3 linked regions of the Homo sapiens genome follow. The protein of the gene in region 2 purifies or fractionates together with the protein of the main gene of each other region. This does not show direct contact. Each region holds a gene or a part of one and is shown on either strand. Other genes may lie near its edges. The genes, in order: ZNF346, ZNF485 and ZNF512.

Region 1 (3,652 bases), on a different chromosome or scaffold from region 2:
CAGCCGCCTGGCTGATTTTTTAAAAAATTTTTCGTAGAGACAGGGTCTCGCTTTGTTGCCCAGGCTGGTCTCAAATTCCTGGTCTCAAGTGATCCTCCCACCTCAGGCTCCCAAAGTACCAGGATTACAGGTATGAGCCACCACACCTGGCCCTTTTCTCACAATTTATAATTCAGAAAGGCAAGATAAACTCTATGACCCTGGGCAAGTTATTTTACATATTTGCACCCTATTCAGAGATCAGGCTTTCTGAGAGAGATGCTGGGATCCCTTTATGTAGTCTTGAAATACATGGTTTCCTAGCCTAATCATAATCAACAAGTAGAACGCAATGGGAGGCTGGGTGCGGTGGCTCATACCTGTAATCCTAGCAATTTAGGTGGCTGAGGCAGGCGGATTGCTTGAGCTTGGGAATTCGAGACCACCCTAGGCAATATGGTGAAACCCCGTCTCTATAAAAAATACAAAAATTAGCCGGGTGTGGTGGCATATTCCTGTAGTCTGGCTACTTGCAGGGGTGGGTGGGAGAATTGCTTGAGCCCTGGAGGTGGAGGTTGCAGTGAGCCGAGATCGTGCCACTGCACTCCAGCCTGGGCAACAGAGTGAGACCCTGTCTTAAAAAAAAAAAACCTAATGGTCCACTTGTTCAGCAAACTCTGAGCATCTACTGTGTGCCAGACTCCAGCTGGGTGTGAAGGATAAGAAACAAAAATGAGTCAAATAGTCCGTGTTCCAATGTCACACTTGAGTTCACAGAAAAGTCTCCTAAGCTATGACACTGTCAGTTTAGGGTGGCAAGTGGTATGACAGAGGTCTATTTAATGTACTCTGGGAGCACAGAAGAGGAGCAGGGTTAATTCTTCCTGGAATACACAAAGGGACTTGACAGTTGTTTACTGAATGATGTTTTTTTTTTTTTGAGAGAAAGTCCCCCAGAGGAAAAGCTTATATTTAAATTGGGTCTTGAAGGCTAAGCAGACACGCTGCCAAGCAGGAAAGGAAGGAAGCACATTTTAGACAGCAGGAATGGCCAAAGCAAAGCAAGGAAGCATCAGAGAATAAAGTGGGGGATGGTGAGTAGAGTCTGGGACAAAGTAGCTGGAGAAGAATCTAGAAAGTAGGTTGGGGTTAATGTGTGAGGGGGGCCATAAATGCCTGTTCTGTTATGGGCAGTGGGGAACCATTGAAGATTTTCTGGTGGGGCAGTGGTATGATCAGACCTGTGTTCTTTCTTCCAACCAGAAGAGCAGCAGAAGCAAAGACAAGAACCAGTGCTGCCCCATCTGTAACATGACCTTTTCCTCCCCTGTCGTGGCCCAGTCGCACTACCTGGGGAAGACCCACGCAAAGAACTTAAAGCTGAAGCAGCAGTCCACTAAGGTGGAAGGTACTGGTTTTCCTGAGTAGTGCTATAGTGGGACCCCTGCCGTCCTCAGGGCACTACTGCCAGGGGCTCACAGAGATCCTCACTGAGGCCACAGACTTGAAGAAGTTGAATTGCTTTTGAGAACCCTTAAAAATCTCCAAGTAGACCCAGCTTCACTGAAATGCAATCTCAGAATTATGCTCACCTAACCTCCCTTTCTTTGGTTATAGGTTTTTCTCTATAGGCTGAGCTTTTGTCCTGACTAATAATTATAACTCAGGAGTGCCAAAGTCCTCCAGGCCACGCATACCATGAGAGCATTCTATCTCCTACCTCTCCCACTAGATTTTTCCATCCCAGCATCCACCTGCCCTTATTACTGCATGTTCCAAGTTGAAAGCTAAATCCTTGTCTTTTTCACATGCTCAGGTTATGGCCTACTCACTTTAATCCTCAAAAGCTGCCTGTTCTCCTCAAGACAGGGACTTGCCTTTCAAAGCTGAATACTTCAGTGCTGCTACTACTGCCCCACAATCTGTAACTGCCATGAATTCATTCCCAGTACAGTGACTTCTGAAATAGCCCCCTTTATCTCGTCACGACTAGGGCTCAGCCCTCACTTTCATCTCATTAACTCCTGACTTTCTGGGGTTTTAACCTCTGCTAATTGCAATTAGTCAAGAGTGAAAGTTCTTTGATGTTTATTTCATTGTTTTCTTGATAATTTTTGCTTCTCTATTTTGGACCAAGAAGTAGACTACACTATTAGTAATACTATTATCCTTTTTGTGTTTACTGACAACTGTGTTTTGGAAGCCTTCAAAGGTAGGGTGAAAAATCACTCATAATTTTTTTTTTTTGAGATGGAGTCTCGCTCTGTTGCCTAGGTTAGAGTGCAGTGGCATGATCTCGGCTCACTGCAAGCTCTACCTCCCAGGTTCATGCCATTCTTCAGCCTCAGCCTCCCAAGTAGCTGGGACTACAGGTGCCCACCACCATGCCCAGCTAATTTTTTTGTATTTTTTAGTAGAAACGGGGTTTCACTGTGTTAGCCAGGATGGTCTCAAACTCCTGACCTCGTGATCCACCTGCCTCGGCCTCCCAAAGTGTTAGGAATACAGGCATAAGCCACCACGCCGGCCAAAACCTTTTTTTTTAAATAGAGATGGCTTCTCACTATATTGCTCAGGCTGGTCTTGAACTCCTGGCCTTAAGTGATACTCCCATCTCAGCTTCCCAGAGTGCTGGGATTACAGGCATGAGCCACCACACCTGGCCACTCATAATTACACCTTTTTATCACACCCACATCTAGTTATTCATGGTATGAAACAGCAGAATGTGGACTTTGAAGTCACAGAGTCCCAGGTTTAAAGCCTGGCACTGTTACTGTTTATATGACTTTTTTGTGTCTGAACTGCCTAACCTATAAAATGATAATAATACTGTCTACTTCATCGGTTGTGAGGATACAATAATGTGTATTAAAAACACAGGACATAGGCCGGGCATGGTGGCTCATGCCTGTTGTAATCCCAGCACTTTGGGAGGCTGAGGTGGGCAGATCACTTGAAGTCAGGAGTTCAAGACCAGCCTGGTCAACACGGTGAAACCCAATCTCTACTAAAAATAACAAAAATTAGCTGGGTGTGGTGGCACGAGCCTGTAGTCCCAGCTTCTTGGGAGACTGAGGCAAGAGAATCGCTTGAACCCGGGAGCTGGAGGTTGCAGTGAGCTGAGATCGCACCATTGTACACCAGCCTGGGGGACAGAGCAAGACCTCGTCTCAAAAAAAAAAAAAAAAAAACCAATTTTATAAGGTCACAGACTTCTCTTCCCACAAATGGGAAAATTCTCTGCATTATGCCTTGTCCCTGAAATTTCATACTCGAGATTATTTTCCATATTCACTTTCAGCTTTTGCCACATACTTTGTTTTTATATAGTTGTGATCATAATGCAGGTACCCTTTATATCCCGCTTTTACTTTTCATTTAATTTTACAGCTTAAGCACATTTCCATGTTATTACACAACTTTATAACTATATTTCTGAAATTAAACACTTTTTAATGTAAAGTAATATAATCATGTTGTAAGAGATAAGGAAAACATGGATAAATGGAAAGAAAAGTTACCCATAATTTTACCATTCACAGATAAACACTGTTAACATTTTGGTTTCTCCTATAATCTGTTTCTCCTATAATCTTATTGTTATATGTATCTTTGTATATCTGTGTGTATATTCGTTTTGTGTATATCTAGGTTAACTCCGTGTATATGT
Region 2 (4,424 bases):
CTCAGCTTCTGCTGGGATGTTCCCCACCCACTCACCTGCATGTGTGCCTGATGGAGCCTCTCGCACCTCAGTCCAGGGCTCTGCCCCTTGCTCCAACTGAGTAATTAGTTTTGGTTTGGAAGAGAGAAGCCCTGTTCATAAAGAAAAAGGATCTTAGAGGAAGAAAAAAAAAATGAATGAAAAGGAATGTGATGGCGGTTACAAGCACAAGCAGTCACTCCAGACCTCAGTGTCAACTTGAGCATCTGCAATGAGCATGGACAGGTCAGAGAGGCCTAGAGGGTGGCACCCAGGATGTCCAACTCATGAAGTAAAGCAAAGGGAGGGGGCAAAGTCAACTAGAAAACCAGGTCCTCCTGGAGGACGAGAAACTCCTATTTTGGGAGGCAGATGAATCATGACACAGAAACATTCCAGAACTGGGCTAGTTGGCACCACAAAGCTACCCATCTTAACTCTGTATGGCTCTGACCTTTCTTGAGGGGTGTAAGGGGCATAAACTCCAGCCTCTAAGCCCATACTTAAGAAAAACAAAACAAAAAGCACATCATTTAAGATTTTTTCAATACCCCAAACCATTCACCCTGTGAAAACACAAAGTTGCCCAGCAGACCAATCCTGAGTCAAGGAGAAAGCCATCCTCACCCACAGACACCAGATTCCCATAGTTCTCCAGCATCACATCCCTGTACAGGGCCCGCTGAGCAGCATCCAGGTGTCTCCACTCAATCCGGGTAAAGGCCACAGCCACATCCCCAAATGTCAGCGGTCCCTGCAAAACCAAACCCAATTCTGCTCATCCGGGAACCCCTGAGGGAGGCATCCCAAGAGAAGGAAGCAAGGTGGTCAAAGCCAGCTTCTGACAGTTCCAACAGTGCTCATGGAAACCAACAAGTAAAAGCTGAGGGCTCAGGGGATGTGCGACTCCTCCCTTGAGCAGGTTCTTCCTGCATGCCTGTCCTGCTCCCTCCTCCAGGCCTAGCCTCTGCTCACTCCACCCTTCATGTCACCTCATCAAAAAGGTCTTCTATTTCTCCACCCCATCCTCTGCCACTCAGTCTCGAAACCCATTTCACTTTTCTTCACAGGATTTCTCACCACCTGGCAGGAGAGGTTTGCACTGACTGTCAGCATCCTCTCTAATGTGAGCTCCAGGGGGACAGTGTGGGTCACTGCTGCCTCCCAGTCAAAAACACTGCCTGACACAGAAGTGTTCAAGCTTTATTCAATCAACAAATGAATAGAAACTTTGAAAAGACATGGAAAGTGATTAGCTTTATCCGAGAATTTACAGGGAGTATGATCTGACTCTGGGGCAGAATATTTTTAAAAAAGAAAAAAAAATTGCTTTTCATAAGAGTAACAACTTACTATGTACCAGCCACGGTGCTAAACCCTGAGATACATATCATCTCTCTAAATTTCTGCCGTAACTATATAAAGTAAAATCTATTTCGTAGCTAAAGACACAAAGGTTCAGAGAGTTGGAAGAACTTGCTCAAGGTCCCAGGGCTGGTTGAAGGCACAGTATAAAAGGAAGCCACAAAAAGTGGTAATGAAACTAGAACAAATTGGAATGGCTATGAAATACTAAAAGAAAAAATGAGTAAGCCTTAAAAAAATGAAAAGTGTGTTTCAAATGAAATTACTTGACTTAGAGCAGTAGAAATGTAGGTGATCTTTAATTTTTTTAATTTTATTTGTATAATAGACACTCAAATGTTTATCACTTCCTTTCAAAATACCAATTATTTAATCAGCTTCTCAAAATCCTTCAAAACCTAGTTTTCTCCAGGATAAAAGCAAACTCCAGTCTGGGATTCTAGACCATGAATGTTTCCAACTTTCTCAGACCAGTTTGTTCATGGTCCCGCCATAATGACTTCATTCAGGCAGCGCTTTCCCCTAGTATCCTCTGCAATTATGCAAATCTCATTTATTCTTCAGGAAGAACTAAGGCGCCCACTACTCCACCCCTCCCACCCTACCACACACTAAAGGTCAAGAGAGCACTGCTATCACCCTATGTCTTTATGGCCTACGTCTTTACATGCTAACGTGTATTTTTTTCATCGTCTGCCAGTTTGCAAAGCACTTTTCTGTTTCTAGCACTCTAGAAAACATGGGTAGCAATAATCTACTTGGTGAATGACTACGTAATGGGTAGACAGGACGGAAATCGCGGGACCCATCCAGGATTGGTTCGGGTAGCTTTGTCCACACACAGGGCAGGGCATTGTCCGGGCAAGAGGCATAAACCCCACCTCGCTGAAACACGTGGTTTCTCAAGAAATGGAAAAATCAAACTTGCCTGGATCTGGGCTCTTGGGGCCATCTGTCTCCTGAACTGTTCTCCCAGGCAAGGGCTGAGAATCCTGCGTAAGTCAATCTGGGAAAGAAGAGAGGAAATTGAGGAAGTCCCTCCGTGCCCTAGCCTAGCTAGAATCTGCCCTCTAGACCAGGTCCCCGCCCGCCCGTTCCCTCCACAGGTGGGCAGACAGGTCCAGGTGGGTACGCTCGGGAAGAAAGGAAAGGGAACGGCTGCTGGGATCCGGCCTGGACTGCAGCCAGCTCCACGCCAAACACTTTTGGCAGCACCGGGGGACGGCCTTGTCAGTGGCCCAATCTGTCGGCCGGGGCGCAAGGCTGGAGCGCTCTGTGATGCACCAGCCTCGAGCGGTCGCTCCACACGGCGCAGCCACTGCGGGTGGGCACTGCCCACCGCCGCCTTCCCCTCCCACCCCGGCTCGCCCCTCGACCCGCCCCTGGGAAAGGCGGGGAGCACCCGCCAGGGGCTCGAGGCTTCAGGGACCCAGCCTGACCCCGGCCGCTCACGAACCGAACCGAGCCGGCAGGGCTGCGGAGCTGCACGCCCAGAGAGTCAGCGACCACACCACGCCGTTCGGACAGTAACCACCAGCCAGGGGCTGGTGCAGCGCTCGCACCACGCGGAGACAGGCTGGACCGGAAGCGGAAGTGGCTGAGGCCGCGGAGGCCTCTGGGAAACGTAGTCTGGGCCGCTTGGGGTCTTAGGGGCTCCATCCGCAGAGCAGGTTGGCATCACCTGGGAATCTTTGAAAAGTGAAGGTGCGGGAAGTGGAGAGCGGCTGATCGCAGTCGGGAGGTGATACATTATGACTGACATGCAAAATCTGGTAAAAAATTGGACAGGGCAGTGGGCCGCCTGGAGGCAGTATCCCATACCTCTGACATGCACCGTGGATATGGAGATAGTCCTTCAAAAGCAGGAGCAGCTCCATATGCGCAGGCATTTGACTCGCTGCTTGCCTGCCCTGTGGCAGAGTACTTGAAGATCAGTAAAGAGATTGGGGAAGACGTGCAGAAAGATGTGGAGATGGTACACACAGTTTTGAAGTTGGAGTGAGCTCTCTTGGTTACAGCTTCTCAGTGTCAATAGCCGGCAGGTAATAAGCTTTCCGATCTGTTGGCACCTATCTCAGAGCAGATCAAAGAAGTGATAACCTTTTGGGAGAAGAACCGAGGCAGCAAGTTGTTTAATCAGCTGTCAGCTGTCAGTGAAAGTATCCAGGCCCTAGGCTGGGTGGCTATGGCTCCCAATCCTGGCCCTTATGTGAAAGAAATGAATCATGCTGCTGTGTTTTATACAAACTGAGTCCTTAAAGAGTACAAAGATGTGGATAAGAAGCATGTAGACTGAGTCAAAGCTTATTTAAGTATATGCACAGAGCTGCAGGCTTACATTAAGGAGTTCCATACCACCGGACTGCCTGGAGCAAAACGGGGCCTGTGACAAAAGAACTGAGTGGACTGCCATCTGGACCCTCTGCTGGATCAGCTACTCCTCCCCCACCACCAGGCCCCCCTCCTCCACTAGTCTCTGTCAGTTCAGGCTCAGATGAGTCCGCTTCCCTCTCAGCACTGTTTGCGCAGATTAATCAGGGGGAGAGCATCACACATGCCCTGAAACGTGTATCTGATGACATGAAGACTCACAAGAACCCTACCCTGAAGGCTCAGAGTGGTCCAGTACGCAGTGGCCCCAAGCCATTCTCTGCACCTAAACCCCAAACCAGCCACAAAGAAGGAGCCAGCTGTACTTGAACTGGAGGGCAAGAAGTGGAGAGTGGAAAATCAGGAAAATGTTTCCAATCTGGTGATTGATGACACAGAGCTGAAACAGGCGGCTTACATATACAAGTGTGTCAACACGATGTTGCAAATCAAGGGCAAAATTAACTCCATTACAGTAGATAATTGTAAGAAACTTGGTCTGGTATTCGATGATATGGTGGGCATTGTGGAGATAATCAACAGTAGGGATGTCAAAGTTCAGGTGATGAGTAAAGTGCCAACCATTTCCATCAACAAAACAGATGGCTGCCATGCTTACCTGAGCAAGAATTCCCTGGATTGTGAAATAGCCAGTGCCAAATCTTCTGAGA
Region 3 (2,828 bases), on a different chromosome or scaffold from region 2:
AGGGGGATAACTAGGAAATATACAGTCTAGCCATTTGTTCTATAATCCCATAATTTGCAAAGGTGAAAGTAGATCTCTGATACTTGTTTTCAGTATTTCTCTACTGTAAACTGTACTGCAATAATCATTCTTTTTTGTGTCTCTTGGTACGCCTAGACAAAAGGAGTTACTCTGTGTATACCCAGGAGAGAAACTGCTAAGTCTTCGGGTACATATCTTCAACTCTGCTAGATACTGCCAAATCACTTTTGAAGTGATTGTACCAATTTGCATTCCAAACCATGTATGAAAGTTCATAATACTGTCAAACTTAGTTTGTTAGTCTAATGAATTTTTTTTAAAAAAACTTTAAAACTCAATACTGTGATTAGAATAGTCTATACTGAGTCCTGCTGATCCCTGGTCTTGGTCAGGAAAAACGAAAGGAATGCCTGCAAGAGGTCCCTGGATGAAACTGGGCAAGTTTCCTATACTAATTCACTTTAATCTCAAACTACTCATTTTAACCAGCATAATTCATGAACCAAAGAATTACTGAGACAACTGCATGTGGAATTTATTTCAAACTCACCCCCATCTCTAGCCATCTTCTTACCCCCATACAGTGTCAAGGAGTCATGCAGCAGGTCGGCGTCAAAGAACACTGGAAACATCTTTCTGAGAGTCATTTATTTCTTTTGTCATTGCCAAACATTCCCCAGGTCTTACTCACCAGAAATTAACATAGCTTCTTCATTTCTCCTCCCTGACAACCCTCATCTACTGAAAGGGCTTTAAGGGCACACTGCCAATGAAAATGCAGAGTGCATATACCATGTCCTTAACTTGTTTCAAAACTACCTATTCTGGCAGTATCCAATTCAGGTTTCAGTGCTCCCTTGTTTGAAAGTGGTCTTCACAAAAGCCCACATTTTAAAGCTATTTGGAGGAGCACAAAGAGTTAAAGTGGTAATAGCCTTTCAGAATTTGAAAAGGTAGTACTTGTCTATATCAGGTTCATTTTTTATGTGGCATATGCCACAAAATAGGCAAGAATATATAAGACCAATATTTACGCAAAATGGGGAAGAGAATCCAGAAACACGACAACAAAGCTGCTCTAACCAATGTTCCAGAGAAAGCCACCCTCAAAGAGAAATAACCCATTAAACATTACCAGATAGGCATGAGGTACAGAAAAAGAATTTTTCTTTCCAGCTCCAGATAAATATCTACATCTGGTGTCAAAGTCTCAGGATATAAAGAGGAGAGAACTCCATATATAAAAGAGGATAGGACAATATTCTCAGAAAATTCAAAAAGACAGAGGTTGGCTAAGGGGATGGGTGGAAACAGTGGGGCGTAGACTAACAAGTAAGGTAAAGTCCAGGGAGAAGGAATGCGCACCTTGGTTTTCCCTTAGTGGCACTACCAGGAGCACTAGGAGACTGTCAAAACATCAGGGGCAATGTGATATTTCTCAATTCTTAAAACCAAAGAAGCAAAAATAAGCTTCAGAGGGCAAGTGATCATAGCTATGGATGAGGCCTCGGGCTCCAGGAAAGTTGGGGCAGTATTTATTGCTGCTTCTACTTTCTCTTTCCTGTCATTTTAATGTTTGGGTCACTTTACTCCTAAGGTTGCTTTTCATGTCTGTGGGTCTAGTCACTGCTACTTGGTACAAAGCATTTCCCAGTATAAACAGCATAGGGTAGTTCTAGAGTTTTCATCCTAAATCCGTTTTCTTACTTTCAATCTTAAAACCATATTGAGAGGACAAACAGCCTCCATAAAGTTTTTTTCCCAAGGAGACAGAGTAATCTTATTATGTGAATGACAACAGTTCTAACTTCTAGACTTGTTATATCACAAATACAAAATGACAAATCAGTTATGGTTTTAAAAAATTAGTTTGGAATGGTTTCACAAGCTAGATGATGGAGCAGCTACTAAATCAATGGAGCTTCCAAGAACATTCTATACCCCAGGAAGGAAAGGACAACCAAAGAGGTTTCTTAGTTTTGTACAGGGCAAGAGGAGCCTATAGTTGGCCTTGAGAGGGAGCTCTTTGGGCAAGATAAAAAAACAAGAGGACTTGACGAGGAATAGCAGGAAAACCTACTAAAAGGGGAGGGGGGAATCAAAATGTAAGAAGGGAAGACAGTGAAATTTACACAGGAGGAAGGAGCTGAGAAAGTCACAGCCTTACACAAACAGCTGAAAGAATCTTCACTCAGTCCTCCCAGCACAGGTCCCCGTGACAACAGCATCACATCTGCTTTCCTAGGAGCACTTTTACACTGACTGCCTATTTCCTTCCTCGTTTATGATTAGTCTTTGGGGGCTTTACTTTCTGGAACTGTGCTGGCACTGGCTCCTGCTCTGGTTCCTTACAGGAGGCTGACACTACCAGTTCCTCATTATTCCTCCTCTGATCCTTCCCTACTCTAAGACTCAGCTCTGTCTCGGGAAGCTCAATGCCAGGCTGCTGCCGCCTTCTTAGAGACCTTCTGCTCCTGTGCTGCTGCCTCCGCTTTTCTTCTTCTTGCTGCCGCTGCTTTATCTTCATCAGCTTTTCAAAGCTTTTGGTTGTTGTTGGGTTTACAACGAACCAGTCCTAGAGAGGCAAAATAGAAATGTCATCCAGTCGAAAATATAGTGAAGAACATAAAGAAAGGTGGAGGAAGAATGGAAAAAAGGCATGATTAGGGCAGAACACAGTAAGAAGGAAACAGATATGGAACCATACCTCAGGATTCTATATTTTAAGATGGAGAAATCCAACACAGAGCAGCTATTACAAGCACATATTTTGTAAGGCGTAATTCTAGGGACTTTAATAAATGATC

The links.
Region 1: the proteins of ZNF485 (region 2) and ZNF346 purify together in Homo sapiens (affinity purification with mass spectrometry; one large-scale study listed by BioGRID and IntAct). This does not show direct contact.
Region 3: the proteins of ZNF485 (region 2) and ZNF512 purify together in Homo sapiens (affinity purification with mass spectrometry; one large-scale study listed by BioGRID and IntAct). This does not show direct contact.

Annotation. Positions count from the first base shown.
Region 1 is NC_000005.10:177,043,147-177,046,798, forward strand, and holds part of ZNF346 (zinc finger protein 346), read left to right. Parts: intron 1-580; exon of another isoform or gene 581-1,070; coding exon of another isoform or gene 1,071-1,073; intron 1,074-1,242; coding exon 1,243-1,387; intron 1,388-3,652.
Region 2 is NC_000010.11:43,604,962-43,609,385, reverse strand, and holds the start of ZNF485 (zinc finger protein 485), read right to left. Parts: upstream 2,949-4,424; 5' UTR 2,840-2,948; exon of another isoform or gene 2,823-2,839; intron 2,390-2,822; 5' UTR 2,336-2,389; coding exon 2,312-2,335; intron 773-2,311; coding exon 646-772; intron 153-645; exon of another isoform or gene 132-152; coding exon 36-131; intron 1-35. UniProt on the Homo sapiens protein: May be involved in transcriptional regulation.
Region 3 is NC_000002.12:27,620,921-27,623,748, reverse strand, and holds the end of ZNF512 (zinc finger protein 512), read right to left. Parts: intron 2,597-2,828; coding exon 2,288-2,596; 3' UTR 532-2,287; downstream 1-531. UniProt on the Homo sapiens protein: May be involved in transcriptional regulation.